2 separate regions of the Homo sapiens genome follow, and region 1 is linked to region 2. Evidence: fine-mapped expression QTL. Tissue or cell type: monocytes after R848. Region 2 holds a variant in brackets; the other region holds the start of a gene. All regions are shown on one strand. Distances are from middle to middle.

What was found. PIP is the estimated chance that this variant, and not a neighbour inherited with it, causes the effect.
Region 1: it holds the start of ZSWIM5, and the variant in region 2 is fine-mapped to the expression of ZSWIM5 in monocytes after R848 (Quach 2016, PIP 0.95).

The regions. Positions count from the first base shown.
Region 1 is chr1:45,202,911-45,211,013 of GRCh38, forward strand. It overlaps ZSWIM5 (zinc finger SWIM-type containing 5), which reads right to left and starts at 3,695. Exons shown (of 14, transcript NM_020883.2): 1 at 2,846-3,695. The coding sequence starts at 3,440. RefSeq lists silencers at 973-1,173, 3,142-3,301, 3,502-3,921 and enhancers at 2,273-3,173, 3,174-4,073.
Region 2 is chr1:45,353,294-45,361,396 of GRCh38, forward strand. TESK2 (testis associated actin remodelling kinase 2) reads right to left here. Exons shown (of 11, transcript NM_007170.3): 5 at 2,010-2,156. It also overlaps the pseudogene LOC124904849. Among named protein-coding and RNA genes, the nearest start is that of TOE1, 17 kb to the left of the region's middle. RefSeq lists enhancers at 6,602-6,701, 6,962-7,041, 7,172-7,671. The variant T/TA (reference allele first, on the strand shown) is at 4,713.

The DNA of each region.
Region 1 (8,103 bases), 150 kb before region 2:
ATTTTCCCAAAGTTTATACTACTACTATATCCATGGGCTTCTGAAACAAGTTAAAAATGCAGATGCTGAAAACATTCATATGTTTTCAATAGAGTTCATACTCTAACCTTTACAATACTGAGATCAGACTGTAAGTCTATTGACATAGCTTTAAACTTACAGACATCCCTGAAGAGACTAATTTGCAATTTTCCCCTTTTAAAAGGAATACTACTTCTGATGCAGTACTTACATAAAAGAAATGTATCCTTTGAGCATAGCTGGAAAAGTTTTAGTTTTGATTTAAAATCTGAAGTATCCAATTTTTAACCAGAATTCATGACTTCCCATTACCAGATTTTGTGTGGAAAGTAATTAGAAATTACAGAATTTAATCTACCTACTCTTTCCACAAGTTTTTGTTTGTTTTTAATTTATTTGCCTTGAAGGCTTTTTTGTTTGTGCTTTCTTTTTTCATTTAAATTCCCTTTTTCATTAAATTCCCTTATGACTCTTTTTCTTAAAAAGATGTTGTCACAGAAATACCCCAACTTTCTGTTCTTCCTAAAGCATCGGCCTTCAGTAACTTCCCAAATCTGAGGTTCTATCGTTTAGAAACAGTAAGGAAATATGTAGAATTCTTAATTAGCATCACTTAGTAATTAATTGAGTTTGAAGTGCAGTTATAAACTGAAAAACACGATTACTATCTTGGTATATACGAATCACTTCCTTACTCATCTCTTGGCAATACTTTTAGAAAGCCTACTCTCTAGATTAAGTCATTTACTTATAACTTTAAGTTTAGGAGATGGGGGATGAGTCTCTATTAAAGGTGGTTCATACCAAAATACAGAACTCAAAAAGATGCAGAACAGGCTATCCTTCTCTCCTATACTTATTAACCTAAATTAAGGTCAGAATAATAAAAATTACACAGCTCGTGGTTCTCAAGTAGCATAAACTTAAAGTGATAAATTTATTCACCGGTCTTCGTCTTTGAAATCCAAAGTCAATCAGAAAACATGTTTGTTTATATGTGTCTTTTCTCAAGTCAATCAGAAAACATGTTTGTTTATATGTGTCTTCTGAAACTACCATAAGAGAGCCTATAACTCCAGAACCACATTAACTTTCATATTATAAAGGGGAAATATCTGATTTAAACATGATCTAGATTACCCAAAATATCCTATTTCATTTGGAAAGTGACACTTTAGTTACTTTAAAAATAGACACCTCTTTAAAACTCTTCCTCTCTTTTATTTGTTCCCTCAAGTTTGAAAATTCTTCCTCATCCATCTCTTACTATAAAATGACCACTTAAATTGATCCTTTTCCATTTAAAATATTTGAAACAAGAATCTTAAAAGTTAAATAAATGATCGAAACTCAGAAAAATTAAAATTTACAGACTAATAGGAAAATGATTGTATTTATTTTCATGTTTTCAGTGTTTCAGTATTAAAGCTGTACACCTTAATTACATATTTATTCAAGTCACTCTTTCAAAAATATACACAAATAAAGGACTAACCTCTTTCAAATAAACAAAACTTGCTCAAGCCACTGTCACTATATTCTGGCACAGGATAAATTTACATTTCACATTTGCAAAACAAGTTGTGGTATGCTGTTGTTTTGGTTAGAAACACAGGAATCAATGATTCTCAATAACCAGAAGCAGATTACTTTATATGAAACAGCACGATTCAAAGAAAAACATTTTTCAAATGTTTTCTCCAGGTTTTACCTGGAGAGCTAGATGTCTGGGGTTTGTGTCTTTCTGTGCTTGTTTAATTCTAAAAACAACCTCCCTTCAACTCCTTTCAAAAATCAGTATTTTCTTCAATTAATACGAGCATATAGTGTACAATAAAACGCATAAAGATATGTACTTCCAGAATGCCATAATAATCCAAATAGAAAAAAATTCGTGTTTTAATTTTCCACATAGCAAAGTCAATGTTAATCATTTTTTTATCCTTCTCCTTAACCATTCCACAAATCAGAAGCACTGTATTTATATATTTAATAAGATTAACAAACTGACTAGAAGCTCCGGAGGAGTAAAGGAAGAAATCATTTGTATAATATATTTTTCCATAACAAAAAGATAAAAGCAAATAGGACTTGTTAAATGAGAAGCTTTTGAAAAACCCAGCGTGACCAGCTTTTGATTTACCCCAGTCTGACAAGGAAGAGAGACCCCACCCCCACTCCAGATTGTATGGCTTTTTTTTTTTTTTTCCTTGGGTGGGGGTGTGGAGGAGAAGCTGTCACATTTCCATCTTCGGTTATTGTTAGTCCGCAGCCTAGATTCCCAAGCATCACCGGTCCAGGGGAAAAATCCTAACGCAGACAATTAAAACTGTCTGAAACATGCAGTATTTTGTTGGGGCTTTTTTCCCAGTGTTAATTTCATCGAGACTCAATCGGCTAGGGCTATAGATTGCCTCTGACAGTCTGTCCCTCAAACGCTCCCTCTAAAACCGCTTGTTCCAGATTTACTAACAATCCTCTCCTCTCCAAACTTAAATTAGGACAACACATTTCTGAAATTATTACATCCAAAAAGTCATACCTCCCCATTCTCTTTGCCTTGGTGTGGGGAATAGAAAGAGTGAAGAAGAGAGATCTATTCACTCTTCAAACAAAAAGAAATTGGGGTAGAGGGTCAGTGGAGGAAAGAGCAGTGGTGGACCTGAGTGAAAGGTTGAAAAAAGTTTTTGTGACTTGTTCGTCCTTCGGCAGGGGTACAGGAGTTGGGCAGAAGGCCGGGGTCTCGGCCCCAGGGCTCGGGCCGAGAAGAGGCACCCGCGGAAGAGGAGGCTGAGGACCCGAGAACGCCTGGACGAGCACATACCGACTTGCAGCACGTTCTCCACGGAGCCGCTGTCCAGCAGACGGATGCCCCGGCGGAACGGGAGCCCCTCGCCACCGCAGCCGGCCGCGCCGGCCCCTGCGCCCAGCCCGGGGGATGCCCCAGCCGCGACGCCCCCGGGGGCGGAGCCGGCCGGAGCGGCGGCCCCGGGGGGTGGCTGCGGCCCCTCCTCGGCCGGCGAAGCCCCCGCGGCGCCGCCAGCAGCGCCGGCGCCGGGGCCGCCCCGGTACTGGAAGCTGGAGTACATGCAGATCTCCCGCTCATTCCGCGGGAAGGACCAGTAGACGATGCGGCGCTGCACGGGCTCCGGGATCCGCTCGAAGCGCTCCTCCACCCGTTCGTATGCCCACTTTTCCGCCACCGTCTTGGCGGCGCAGTCCAGTAAGGAATCCGGCTGCAGGTGGGGGCGGGCCCCGAGGACCAGGCAGCTGCTGCCGACGCCCCCTGCCCCTCCGCCGGCTGCCCCAGGCGAACCGCGAGGGTGATGAGCCTGCGGGCTGGGCCACGAACACTGCCGCTTAGCCGGAGAGACCGGTGACGGCGAGAGCAGCTCCTCTCGCTCACCTCCGTCCGCCATTGCTGGGGACTGACTGACTGACTGAGGCGGCGGCGGCTGCTCGGGCTGCGGCGGAGACCCTGGCCACGGCCACGCGCCCCGCGCAAGCGCCCAGCGGTGGCGCCGAGGGGGGCGGGGCGAGAGAACCCGCGAGCCAGCCGGCCCGAGTGGGGAACCGCGGCCGGGCCCGGGAGCGCGCCGCGAGGGCAGACGCGGGCGGCCTGCAGGGTAGCGTGAGGCGGCGCGCGGTGTCCTGGCCGCCGCGGACGCGAAGACAGGCGGGAGCGAGCGCGGGCCCGCGGCGCGCTCCAGGCGCAAACAGCCTAGAACGCGAGCCGAGCGCTCTCGCGGATCCGGCGACCGCGGAGGGGAGAGGAGCGCCGGACGCTCTCGCACGCCCGCCCGCCCGCCCGCGCACCTCCAACCCACCTGCCGCCGGCCAGACAGGAATGGACTGTGTGACTGAATGAAATGGCGGGGCCATAAGCCATCCAAGGAGCCGCCTCCGTGAAGTTATAGGCTCGCGGGGTACAAGGAGAAAAAAACAATCCAGCTCCAACGGTACTGATGTGACAGGAGGTTGTCACAGCAGAGCGGAAGATCTGGCAGAAAGACGCTGGGAAAGAAGACACTAGGGGAAAACATCAGAAAGTTCGGATGATGAAAACTCACCTCACGCCACAACAATGTAGGATAAAGCCGGCGGTCACCCCACCCCAGAGTGGGACAAAGTCGCACCACCCCTTGACAATGGGGCATCAAGATCTTATCGCCACGGGGGTTGCATCCTGGTGGGGTCTTTTGGAGGGTTTAGCACCTTGCATCCTAGAATACAAAACACTTTTGCGTGTTTTTTGGTAGAATTCTCTGATCCCCTACCTCCAATCTGAATTAGGTCTTTCATGTTTTCCTCACTTGGCTCAGTCTTCTACACCTTTACATAGTTGTATTTTTATATATTTGTTTAATGTCTGACTGTCAACTCCATGAGAGTGAGAATCATGTCTATTTCCTTCACTATAATTTATCCTCTGCCTGGCACATAGTGGGTGCTCAAGAATGGCAGCTTCATCACTAACTCCATAAACAACACGCAATTGTAAGTTACTGTTTCTTGCTCGATCAAGAAAGCTCAGATTATTTCAGAATTTGCTGACAAACTAATCTCTACAACTTTAAAACGTTCCAAGAACTGTATTAAAAGAGTTTCTATAGTTGAGTTTGCCCTTCAAAGTAAGAGAGATTTAGAGTGTAGGATAAAATAAGAGTAAGAAGAGAGTAAATGATTGGAGACAGGCTGGAGCCACAGTTTGGTTTTGCTGTAATCTCAGAATTAAAGAGCACAGGCAGAATTGGGTGTGAATCACACTTGCTGTGTGTGATGCTATTCATGATTCTATTAAATCATTTGCAAAAGGGAGCTAGTAATAATGCTTCTACACATAAATGTTGTAAGAATTAGAAATAATTCACTTTAAAAAAAGTTTTTTTAGAGACAGGATCTCACTCTGATGTCCAGCCCGGAGTGCAGTGGGGTGATCACTGCAACCTCAAACTCTTGGACTCAAACTATCCTTCCATCTCAGCCTCCAGAATAACTAGGACAACAGATGCACAGCACCACACCCAGCTAATTCTAAATTTTTGTAGAGGGGCGGTCTCCCTATGTTGCCCAGGCTGGCTGGAATTAGAAGTAATTCAAATTGTTTGCTTATTCAGTGTAGTAGGTACTCAATAAGTATCTGTTTAGGCCAGATGCAGTGGCGCATGCCTGTAATCCCAAGGCTTTGGGAGGCCAAAGTGGAGGATCCCTTGAGGCCAGGAGTTCTAGACCAGCCTGGGCAACAGAGCAGACTGGAGACCCCATCTCTACACAAGAAATAAAAAATAGCAGGGATTAGTGGCCTACACCCTGTAGTCCTAGCTACCCTGAAGGCTGATGTAGGAGGATTGATTGAGCCCAGGAGTTCAAGGTTACAGTAAGCTATGATCATGCCACTGCACTCTAGCCCAGGCAACAGAGCAAGACCCTCTCTAAAAAAACAAAAAAAGAAAGAAAAAGAAATCTGTTTATATTGGTAAATGGATTTATATCTGTAAATAACTATAAATAGATTACTGCAAAATAGCATAATCCCTACTCCACCTTGAATCTGGTACCACATTTACAGGCTTCCATAACACACACTATTTTCTTTCCTATAATTTATCAGAGTTTTTTGGGAGAACGAATATTCCTTTAATGCCTGTCCCCCTAACTAGACTATGAGCTGTGGAAGGGCAGGAACCATTTCCATGTAAGGGCCTATTTCTACCACCTGCCAAAATGCCTACACATAGAAGATGTTCAGAAAATATTTGCACTTTGAATCAATGAATATGTTATTCTGATTTAATCAGTTACTGTCTTTTTTTTTTTTTTTTTTTTTTTTGAGATGCAGTCTCACTCTGTCACACCCAGGTTGGAGTGCAGTGGCACAATCTTGGCTCACTGCAACTTCCGCCTCCTGGGTTCAAGTGATTCTCTTGCCTCAGCCTCCCAAGTAGCTGGGTCTACAGGCGTGTATGCCACCATGCCCAGCTAATTTTTGTATTTTTAGTAGAGATGGGGTTTTACCACATTGACCAGGCTGGTCTCAAACTCCGGCTTCAAGTGATCTGCCCGCTTCAGCCTCCCAAAGTGCTGGGATTACAAGTGTGAGCCATGGCGCCTAGCCTATATTTATGTGTTTATTTGCTTAATGTCTGTTTCCCAAAATAGACTATAAGCTCCATGTTAGGCGGGCGTGGTGGCTCACACCTGTAATTCCAACACTTTGGGAGGCTGAGGTGGGTGGATCACTTGAGGCCAGGAGTTCGAGACAAGCCTGGTCAACATGGTGAAACTCCACCTCTACCAAAAATACAAAAATTAGCTGGGCATGATGGTGGGCATCTGTAATCCCAGCTACTCGGGAGGCTGAGGCAGGAGAATTGCTTGAACCTAGGAGGCGGAGTTGCACTGAGCCGAGATTATACCACTGCCAGCCTGGGAGACAGAGTGAGACTGTGTCTCAAAAACATAAATAAAAAATAAAAAATAAGCACATAAATATATAAATACAGATGGTAATAACACAGCAAATAAGACATTTGGGAATATGCAATATGTGGTTGTGAATAACAAGAATGCTAGATTAATTGGACCATAAGTTTGTGGTGAGAAATAGTGGGAAAAGACTGCAAGAGAGACAGGAGACATTGTGAAAAGCTTTTAAAAGCATTGTAAAATGCTAACTTGAGGAATCTGCATTTTCTTAGGTTGGTGGAGGGAAGCTAATAAAGGTATTTTGAGCAGGACAGTTATATGATAAAAGGCAGTGTTTTAGGAATATTAACCAGACAGAAATATGTAGGATGAATCAGGAGAAAGATAAAGTCTGGAGGCAAAAGATGAGTTTGGAGATAAACCAACAGTGTGGGAAGGAGGTAATAAAGGCTTGTAGAAGGCATTGGACGAAAAGATATCTAGACATCGGGCAAAAAGGGGCTGAAATCTGGCCTGCACTCCATTTGCCCATCCCTGCACCAACCAGGTTGCATCTGGGTGCCTCTTTCTCATTCTCACCAAGTGACCATATGGGCTAGCAATGGCTCTGGGCCTGTGTTACCTCTCTCTGTTTGATCCCTCTTCTCTGATGAGAGAATTGACATATTTCAAGGAGACTGTGGGAGTCTAAAGATACTTATTTTACAGCATTGCAATCCCCAGGGTGAAAACACAAATACCAAAAATCAATAACCAGGAAGAATACCTCACATCTTAATACAACTCTTTTGATGTCAGGAAAATTTTGATCCAACCTTAGAAATAAATCTTTAAATTTGCATTTGTGAAACATCCTCAACCCCTTTGCATGGAATGAAATGATGAGATGAAGGTGAAGGATAGAGTGAGACTCAGAGATGAGGATTTAGGTATCATTTGACAAGCAAACTGTATGCAACCCAGTCATTTATTTAATAAAATTTATTTTGGCTTCTATTTCAAAATGTAGAAGATAGACACCTGTGCTTCCTGATAACACTTTGTTTGGGTATATCATAAACACTGAATGAAGTGGGAATGAGAAATATTTAGGAATTAGAAAGGAAGATCATGATTTTTTTTTTCTTTTTTTTCAGACAGTGTCTGGCTCTGTTATTCAGGCTGGAGTGCAGTGGTACAATCTTGGCTCACTAAAACCTCTGCTTCCTAGGCTCAAGCGATCCTACCACCTCAGCCTCCCAAGTAGCTGGAACCACAGGCATTCGCCACCACACTTGTAGAGACAAGGTCTTCCTATATTGCCCAGGCTGGTCTCAAACTCCTGGGCTCAAGCAGTCCTCCCATCTTGGCCTCCCAAAGTGCTGGGATTACAGATATGAGCTACCATGCCTGGCTAGAAGACCATGATTTGAATTGATTGGACCTATTACCCAACTCTGGTTTTTTTTTTTTTTTTTTTTTTGATACAGAGTTTCACTCTTGTTGCCCAGGCTGGAGTGCAGTGATGCAATCTCAGCTCACTGCAACCCCCACCCCTTGAGTTCAAGCAATTCTCCTGCCTCAGCCTCCTGAGTAGCTGGGATTACAGGTGCCCGCCACCATGCCTGGCTAATTTTTGTATTTTTAGTAGAGACAGGGTTTCACCATGTTGGCCAG
Region 2 (8,103 bases):
ACTGTCCAGTTCTTACAGACAGTAATGTAGATAAAGGGCTCCTTACAACTAGGCCTCTGCTGGTTCCCAGTTTCTACTTGCCAGTCTTGTGCTCCTTCAGGAACAGTGCAGCTGACTACAAATGACTCTGCCACACACCAAAACCATTCTATGTGAGGCATCCAGGTACTTACTGCTTTAGGCTTTATTGACTCAGTACTGCTGCTTTTGTTCCCTTTCAAGCTTTTTCTTAAGATGGGCTCCCTTCCCCTCCCCTTCATCTGGGGCAGAAGGAGTAGGAGTATGTGCATGCATATGTGAATATGTGTACATGTAGGTATTGAGGGTGGGGAATGAAGTGACAGCTATTCTTAGGCAGGTACAAAACTCTTATACACCTCCCTAGCAGACTTTAATTCAGTTCTTGGGCAGCAGTCATATTAGATATGTTAGATTGCCTTATAGTTCCCCCATTAATAATCAAACGGTACTATTTATATAAGCCTTGTCATGATGGTATCTTAGGCCATTTGGCTATGAGGTGTCTGTTTTGTGGCATGGCCAACTTCCTCTGAAAGCGACTCTTTTCTAACCTGGTCACACAGCAATTTGGACAGCAAGAGAGTGCTACAGAGATCAGCTGATGCCAAAGAGGAACTGGCAGGGCAGCAGAAACTCAATCACACAGGCAGAAAATGGGTCAGTACATATGGCCCTAAAAACCTGCATTCAAGTGACTAAAAATCACTGAACTCCTGCTCTTAGCTAAGAACTACATCCTGGGGCCACAGGAAAGAAAACTGATAGGCCCCTATACTGCCTTGACTGCTGTCATTCCTATAAGGCAAGAATTTCTTAACCCTTCTCATGTCATTTGCTCCTGTAACACATATTCAGGAGATTGAAGTTAAACATGAAGGCTCTCAAGATGTATGAGTTGGCTGGGCACAGTGCATGCCTGTAATCCCAGCACCTTAGGAGGCTGAGGTGGGTGACTGCTTGAGCTCACAAGTTTGAGACCAGTCTGGGTAACATGGCAAGACCCCATCTCTGTTAAAAATACAAAAGAAAGGCTGGGTATGGTGGCTCATGCCTGTAATCCCAACACTTTGGGAGGCCAAGGCACGTGGATCACCTGAGGTCAGGAGTTTGAGACCAGCCTGCCAACATGGTGAAACCCCATCTCTACTAAAAATACAAAAAATTAGCGAGGGGTGATGGCAGGCGTCTGTAATCCCAGCTACTCAGGAGGCTGAGGCAGGATAATTGCTTGAACCCAGGAGGTGGAGGTTGCAGTGAGCCAAGATCACTCCATTGAACTCCAGCCTGGGCAATAAGAGTGGAAAAAAACAAAACAAGACCAAAATACAGCCAGGCATGGTGGTGTACGCCTGTGGTCCCAGCTATTCGGGAGGCTGAGGTAGGAGGATTGCTTGAGCCGATGGAGTGGAGGCTGCAGTGAGCCGAGACCATGCCACTGTACTCCAGCCTGAGTGACAAGGTGAGACCGTCTCAAAAAAAAAAAAAAAAAAAAAAAAAAAAAATATATATATATATATATATATATATATATATATGTTGGCTCACTCAGCACTGAAAGGAACCTGCTATAAGAAAATATAGGCTTATGGTGGGGCACAGTGACTCACGCCTGTAATCCCAGCACTTTGGGAGGCCAAGGCGGGTGGATTGTTTGCAGCCAGGAGTTCAAGACCAGCCTGGCCAATATGGCAAAATTCTGCCTCTACTAAAAATTAGCTGAGTGTGGTAATATACACTTCTAGTCCCAGCTACTCAGGAGACTGAGGCACGAGAGTCGTTGAACCCAGGAGGCAGAAGCACTCCAGCCTGGGCAACAGAGTGAGACACTGCCTCAAAAACAGAAGGAAAAGATGTAGGCTTTCTAAGGACTAACTATAAAATATAATGAATTATGTCCTCTGTGATTAAATGTTAAATCTAACACAGCTTTCTTGGCAAAAGAGAAGGGTGGTATCTCTCAATGAGTTGTGAGAGTAAAGCCTTCATACCTTAGATGTGAGGTCCCGATGAAAAATGCCTTTGAAGTGAAGGTAGCTGAGGCCCACTGCTATGTCATAGGCCAGTTTTACCCTCACAGTCCAAGGCAAATGCAGGTTACTGTCTAGCAACTGTTCCAGGTTCCCGGAGTTGATATACTGCAAAACAGAAGGAAAACCCAGCTACCATTTATCAGAAATATTTAGGCTAGTGGTGAAACCATTAGAGAGTAAACACCTGGAAGAGAGAGACTGTATTTTTTTTTTAAGTTACTGAGGGCTTATTCTGCCTCCAAGCACTATGGTAGGTGCTGCACACAATGACACTTTCCTTTAAGGAGATCACAATCTATTAAGGGACATAGTCAAACAATATCATATAATAAATATTAAAATATAGTTATGTGCAGGTAGGACAACACCATGCAGCAACAAGGATAAAGCTAAACTGTGGAGGCATGTCAGAGGAAATGCAGAGAGGAAATAAGGAGTCAGAAAGGATGACCTGGAGTAGCAGGAAAGTAGCACGAAAGACACAGAGGGAGCAGCATATGCAAAGTTACAGGTTAAGTGCATGATGCATTCAGGAACTTAATTTACTTCGATATGGCCAGAGTGCATTTATAGATGAGTCAGGAAGTGAGGCTGACATGTTTTGCTAAGATATGTGAACTTTATCCTGTCTATAGGAAACAAAAGAAGCATTTTAAGCAGGAGAGCCACATGGTTATATTTGCTTTTTAAAGAAAATATTATTTTAGCCATGGTATGATAGATGGATTAGAGTGAAAAATACAGAGAAAGGGAAATAGGAGATTACTGCAATAATCCTGGTGAGAGCAGGGCATCTGAATCATGGCAATAGTGGAGGCATTGGAACAAGGCAAGATTCAAAATGTATTTAGATGGCAGAATTAAAAAAAAAAAACTTGATAATTGCCTGGATTAGAGAATGAGAGCAATAGGCTATTGGTCCCTGGATGTCATTTTTAAATACCCAGAGAGCAAGGAGAGGAGTAGGTTTTTAGAAGAAGAGGCAATGTTAAAAGAGAGTGAGTTCAGGCCAGGTGTGGTGACTCATGCCTGTAATCCTAGAACTTTGAGAGGTAGAGGATCGCTTGAGCTCAGGAGTTCAGACCGGCCTGAACAGCATAGTGAGAGACTTAGTCTCTACAAAAATAAACAGAATTAGCTGGACGTGATGGTGCACACATGTAGTCCTAGCTACATGGGAAGATCGCCTGAGCCTGGGAGGTTGAGGCTGCAGTGAGCTAAGATCATGCCAATGCACTCCAGCCTGGGTGATAGACAGAGCGAGACCCTGTCTTAAAAAAAAAAAAAAAAAAGATAGTGAGTTCAGCTGGGAGAAGTTAAATTATTAAAGGTACAGGTGCTTATTGGACAACCAAGGTGGAAATGATCTAAATAGAGTCAGTTTGAAGCTTAAGAACAAAGTCTAAGTGAAAGACAATATTTAGGAGGCAAAAACATTGAGCTGAAGCAGTCATGCATTCCAAGGTCATGCATGCCCAGGGTTTAACATGTAAGATGGGAAATCAACAGAATCCCAAGGAACAGGCAAGAATGTCAATAGGAGAACATTCTAAATGTTCAGAAGGACGGCCGGGCGCAATGGCTCATGCCTGTAATCCTAGCACTTTGGGAGGCCGAGGCGGGTGGATCACCTGACATCAGGAGTTCAAGACCAGCCTGGCCAAGATGGTGAAACTCTGTCTCTGTTAAAAATACAAAAAAATTAGCTGAGCATGGTAGCAGGCGTCTGTAATCCCAGCTACTCAAGAGGCTAAGGCAGGAGAATCACTTGAACCCGGGAGGCAGAGGTAGTAGTGAGCTGAGATCGTGCCATTGCACTCCAGCCTGGGCAACAAGAGCTAAACTCCATCTCATAAATAAATAAATAAATAAATAAATAAATAAATAAATAAATAAATGTATGTATGTATGTATGTATGTTCAGAAGGACAATGACATTCTACATGTCAGAAGGAAAGCATTCTACAAAGGAAATGACTGACAGTATCAAAAGCCATGAATGAGGAAGACGAGCTTGAAAGGTATCCACTGAATTTGCAACCAGGAAATCATTGGCAACCTTGGACAGAGCAGTTTCAGTAAAGTGGTTAAGACGAGTAAGACTGAAGTGAACAGAGGAAAGAGTAGCAGATAAGGTTATGGAGAAACTATTTGAAGATAGTCTTGCTGTTCATCATTCCTAAATACCCATGAAGGGCAGCTTTGCTTTTTTAGTAAAAAAAAAAAAAAAGAAAAAAAAGTGAATAAGGCTGGGCACGGTAGGAGGCCAAGGTGGGAGGATCACTTGAGGTCAGGAGTTTGAGACCAGCCTGGGGAAAGTGGCAAAATCCCGTCCCTACAAAAAATACAAAAATTGGCCAGGCACGGTAGCTCCCAGGGGTGGGATCATAGTAGCTAACACCTGTAATCCCAGCACTTTGGGAGGCCAAGGCAGGTGGATTACCTGAGGTCGGGAGTTCGAGACCAGCCTGACCAACATGGAGAAACCCTGTCTCTACTAAAAATACAAAATTAGCCAGGCATGGTGGCGCATGCGTGTAATCCCAGTACTCGAGAGGATGAGGCAGGAGAATCGCTTGAACACGGGAGATGGAGGTTGCAGTAAGCCGAGATTGCACCATTGTACTCCAGCCTGGGCAAGTGACGGAGTGAAACTCCGTC[T/TA]AAAAAAAAAAAAAAAAAAAAAAAAAGCCTGGGCACAATGGCTCACACCTGTAATCCCAGCACTTTGGGAGGCCAAGGTGGGCAGATCACGAGGTCAGGAGATCGAGACCGTCCTAGCTAACATGCTGAATCCCCGTCTCTACTAAAAATACAAAAAATTAGCCGGGCGTGGTTGCAGGCGCCTGTAGTCCCAGCTACTCGGGAAGTTGAGGCAGGAGAATGGCATGAACCCAGGAGGCGGAGCTTGCAGTGAGCCGAGACTGTACCACTGCACTCCAGCCTGGGCAACAGAGCGAGACTCCATCTCAAAAAAAAAAAAAAATTAGCTGGGTGTGGTGGTGTGTGCCTATAGTCACAGCTACTCACAGGTTGAGGTTGGGATGATCACTTGAACCTCAGGAGGTCAAGGCTGTAGTGAGCCATGATTGTGCCACTAGATTCCAGCCTAGGCAACAGAGAGAGACCCAGTCTCAAAAAAAAGTGAGTAAGTATATGTATTTATAAATAATAATAGCAGCTGTTATTTATATAGTATCTAAATTGTTTCAGGCACTGTTCTGAGAGTTTTGCATATATTATCTCATTTAATCTGCACAATAACCCTATAAGGTAGGTACACTGGTACTTTTTTTCCTTTTTTTTTTCATGTCAGACAACGTGCAGACATTAATAAGGTTTGAGGGTAGTACACCTCACACATGCACATGAAAATCCAATCATCGTGCTATGGACTACAAAATGACTACATACTATTACTCATTTTAGAGAAGGCATTTAGAAATTAAGCAACTTGCTTAAAGTTATCCAGTTATTAAGTGGCAGAGACTGGCAGACTCTGCAGTCTGGCTCCAGAGTCCATACTCTTTACCACTACGTTGCACTGGAGACTTAGAGACCACAGCATCTGAGTAAGAGAGCCTCATGCAGCACAGGAGCTCAAAAATGAATTTACTCAAACCTTATATGATGTATTATCTCCCTCCTCCTCCCAAGGGAGAAAAAGAGGGAAATTCCTCTAAGCCTAAAATTTATATCTTAATACATATTTTTGGGTACCATTGCATTTACAAAGGACTAGGGAACTTAATGGGATAAGAGGAGAAATATCTGAATTCTAGCCCAATTCAGCCTCCTAATAGCCATTTAACTTGGACAAATCAACTAATAAGGCTATCCATCTTTCACTTTTCTCAACTATAAGTAGGTATGATAATCCCTGATTCACCTAATTTGCAGTGTTGTTATGAGAATCTAATAAAATATGTGAAAGTTGGCCAGGCGCCGTGGCTCACGCCTGTAATCTCAGCACTTTGGGAGGCCAAGGCGGGCAGATCACCTAAGGTCAGGAGTTCAAGACTAGCCTGGCCAACATAGTGAAACCCCATCTCTACTAAAAATACAAAAATTAGCCGGGCATGGTGGTGGGTGCCTGTAATCCCAGCTACTCGGGAGGCTGAGGCAGGAGAATCACTTGAACCCGGGAGGCGGAGGCTGCAGTGAAGTGAGATTGAGCCACTGCACTCCAGCCTAGGCAACAGAGTGAGACCCTGTCTTGAAAAAAAAATATGTAAAAGTTGGCCAGGCGAGATGGCTCACACCTGTATTCCTAGCACTTTGGGAGGCCAAGGCAGGTGGATCCCCTGAGGCTAGGAGTTCGAGACCAGTCTGGCCAACATGGTGAAACCCCATCTCTACTAAAGATACAAAAATAAGCAGGGCATGGTGGCAGACGACTGTGATCCCAGCTACTTGGGAGGCTGAGGCACGAGAATCACTTGAACCTTGGAGGCAGAGGTTGCGGTGGGCAGAGATCATATCACTGCACTCCAGCCTGGGCAACAGGGTGAGACTCTGTCTCAAAAAAATAATAATAAAATAAAATATGTGAAAGCGCTTCGAAAAAAATTTAAATGTCATATATTTTCTGATGTGGTAATAATATAAGCACCAAAAAGAACCAGTTGGGGGCAGCACCATGCAGCACTTCAGATCCTTGGAAGCGTCGGACCAGTTTTGGCAAGACAGAAAGAATGACTAAAAATAAATCTTCCAACTTCTCAAAAGGGAAACTTGTTGATCTGCTTCATCCTGCTTGATAATCCATCTTTGAAAATCTTAAAATAAGGCATAATGACGGCATAAGCACAGCGCCTTGCTCTCTTCATTCTAGTTGAATCTGCCCAAGATTCACATTTGAGGTGCCCATTTGCTGAAAAGAAACTGAGCTTGTGAACTTCAGGGTTATAAGTGGGCAGTGAAGCTGACATCTAATCATGCAGGCAGATTTCTTTAGCTCTGAAAGTCAAAAGGTAGGCAGTGGTTCACTTCTTTAGCATGATGACAGTGTGATATGTCGGGCCTGTCTTCAGGAGCCACTCAGGTTTCCCAACTGAGTGCCAGGCAGAAGACACTATAATGAAAAGACTGTATGTGCACTCTCTATAGGCCAGGTGACACCAGGACTCTTGGTTCTGGGAAACACTTGTTTACTCTGTTCAGCAGTGTCTCTGAAGGCCCTGGAAATCCATATGCAAAGCCAGAGGGTGGAGAGCACAGGAAAAGGTGACAAAAGATGAGGAATCACACTTGGCTAATAGATTCTGGCTTCTCCAGGCAAACTGGAAAAAGCGCAAACCAAGGACCAGAGAGGGAAAACAAATGGAATTTGCTTTTACAACCCATTTCTCTTGCCTGCCTTTGGTGAATACATTAGTTGGGCTGATAAGCCTGTAGGCCCTCAGAAACCGCTTCTCAATGTTTCAAGACCTCTGCATGCATAAGAAAAGGAAATTTGAGATTTGTCAACAAGGAAGATTTCTTTCTTTTTTTTGAGACGGAGTCTCACTCTGTCCCTCAGGCTGGAGTGCAGTGGCGCCATCTCGGCTCACTGCAACCTCCACCTCCCAGGTTCAAGTGATTCTCCAGCCTCAGCTTCCCGTGTAGCTGGGATTACAGGCTGTGTCACCACACCCAGCTAATTTTTGTATTTTTTAGTAGAGACAGGGTTTTCCCATGTTGGCCAGGCTTGTCTCGAACTCCTGACCTCAGGTGATCCACCCGCCTCAGCCTCCCAAAGTGCTAGGATTACAGGCGTGAGCTACCGCACCCAGCCAGAAGATTGCTACACGGTCTCTGTGCCCATTAGCTGGAATGTTCACTTCTCCATAAGCAACTCCCAGTGCAGACTCAGCTGGTGTGGCCTCTAAACAAATCCCTCTGCAGGAAGCAGAGACAAGAGCAACTGCATTAGCATGTTCAGCTTTCCCGGATGGGGATAACAGCTGCTTTGCTTTCATTTTCAGCTAGACTACTCCCTCGGTCAGCCCTATAAAATGACCCAAGGCATTGGTAATACATTTAATTAATACAGAAGTTTTAATATTTTTAATTG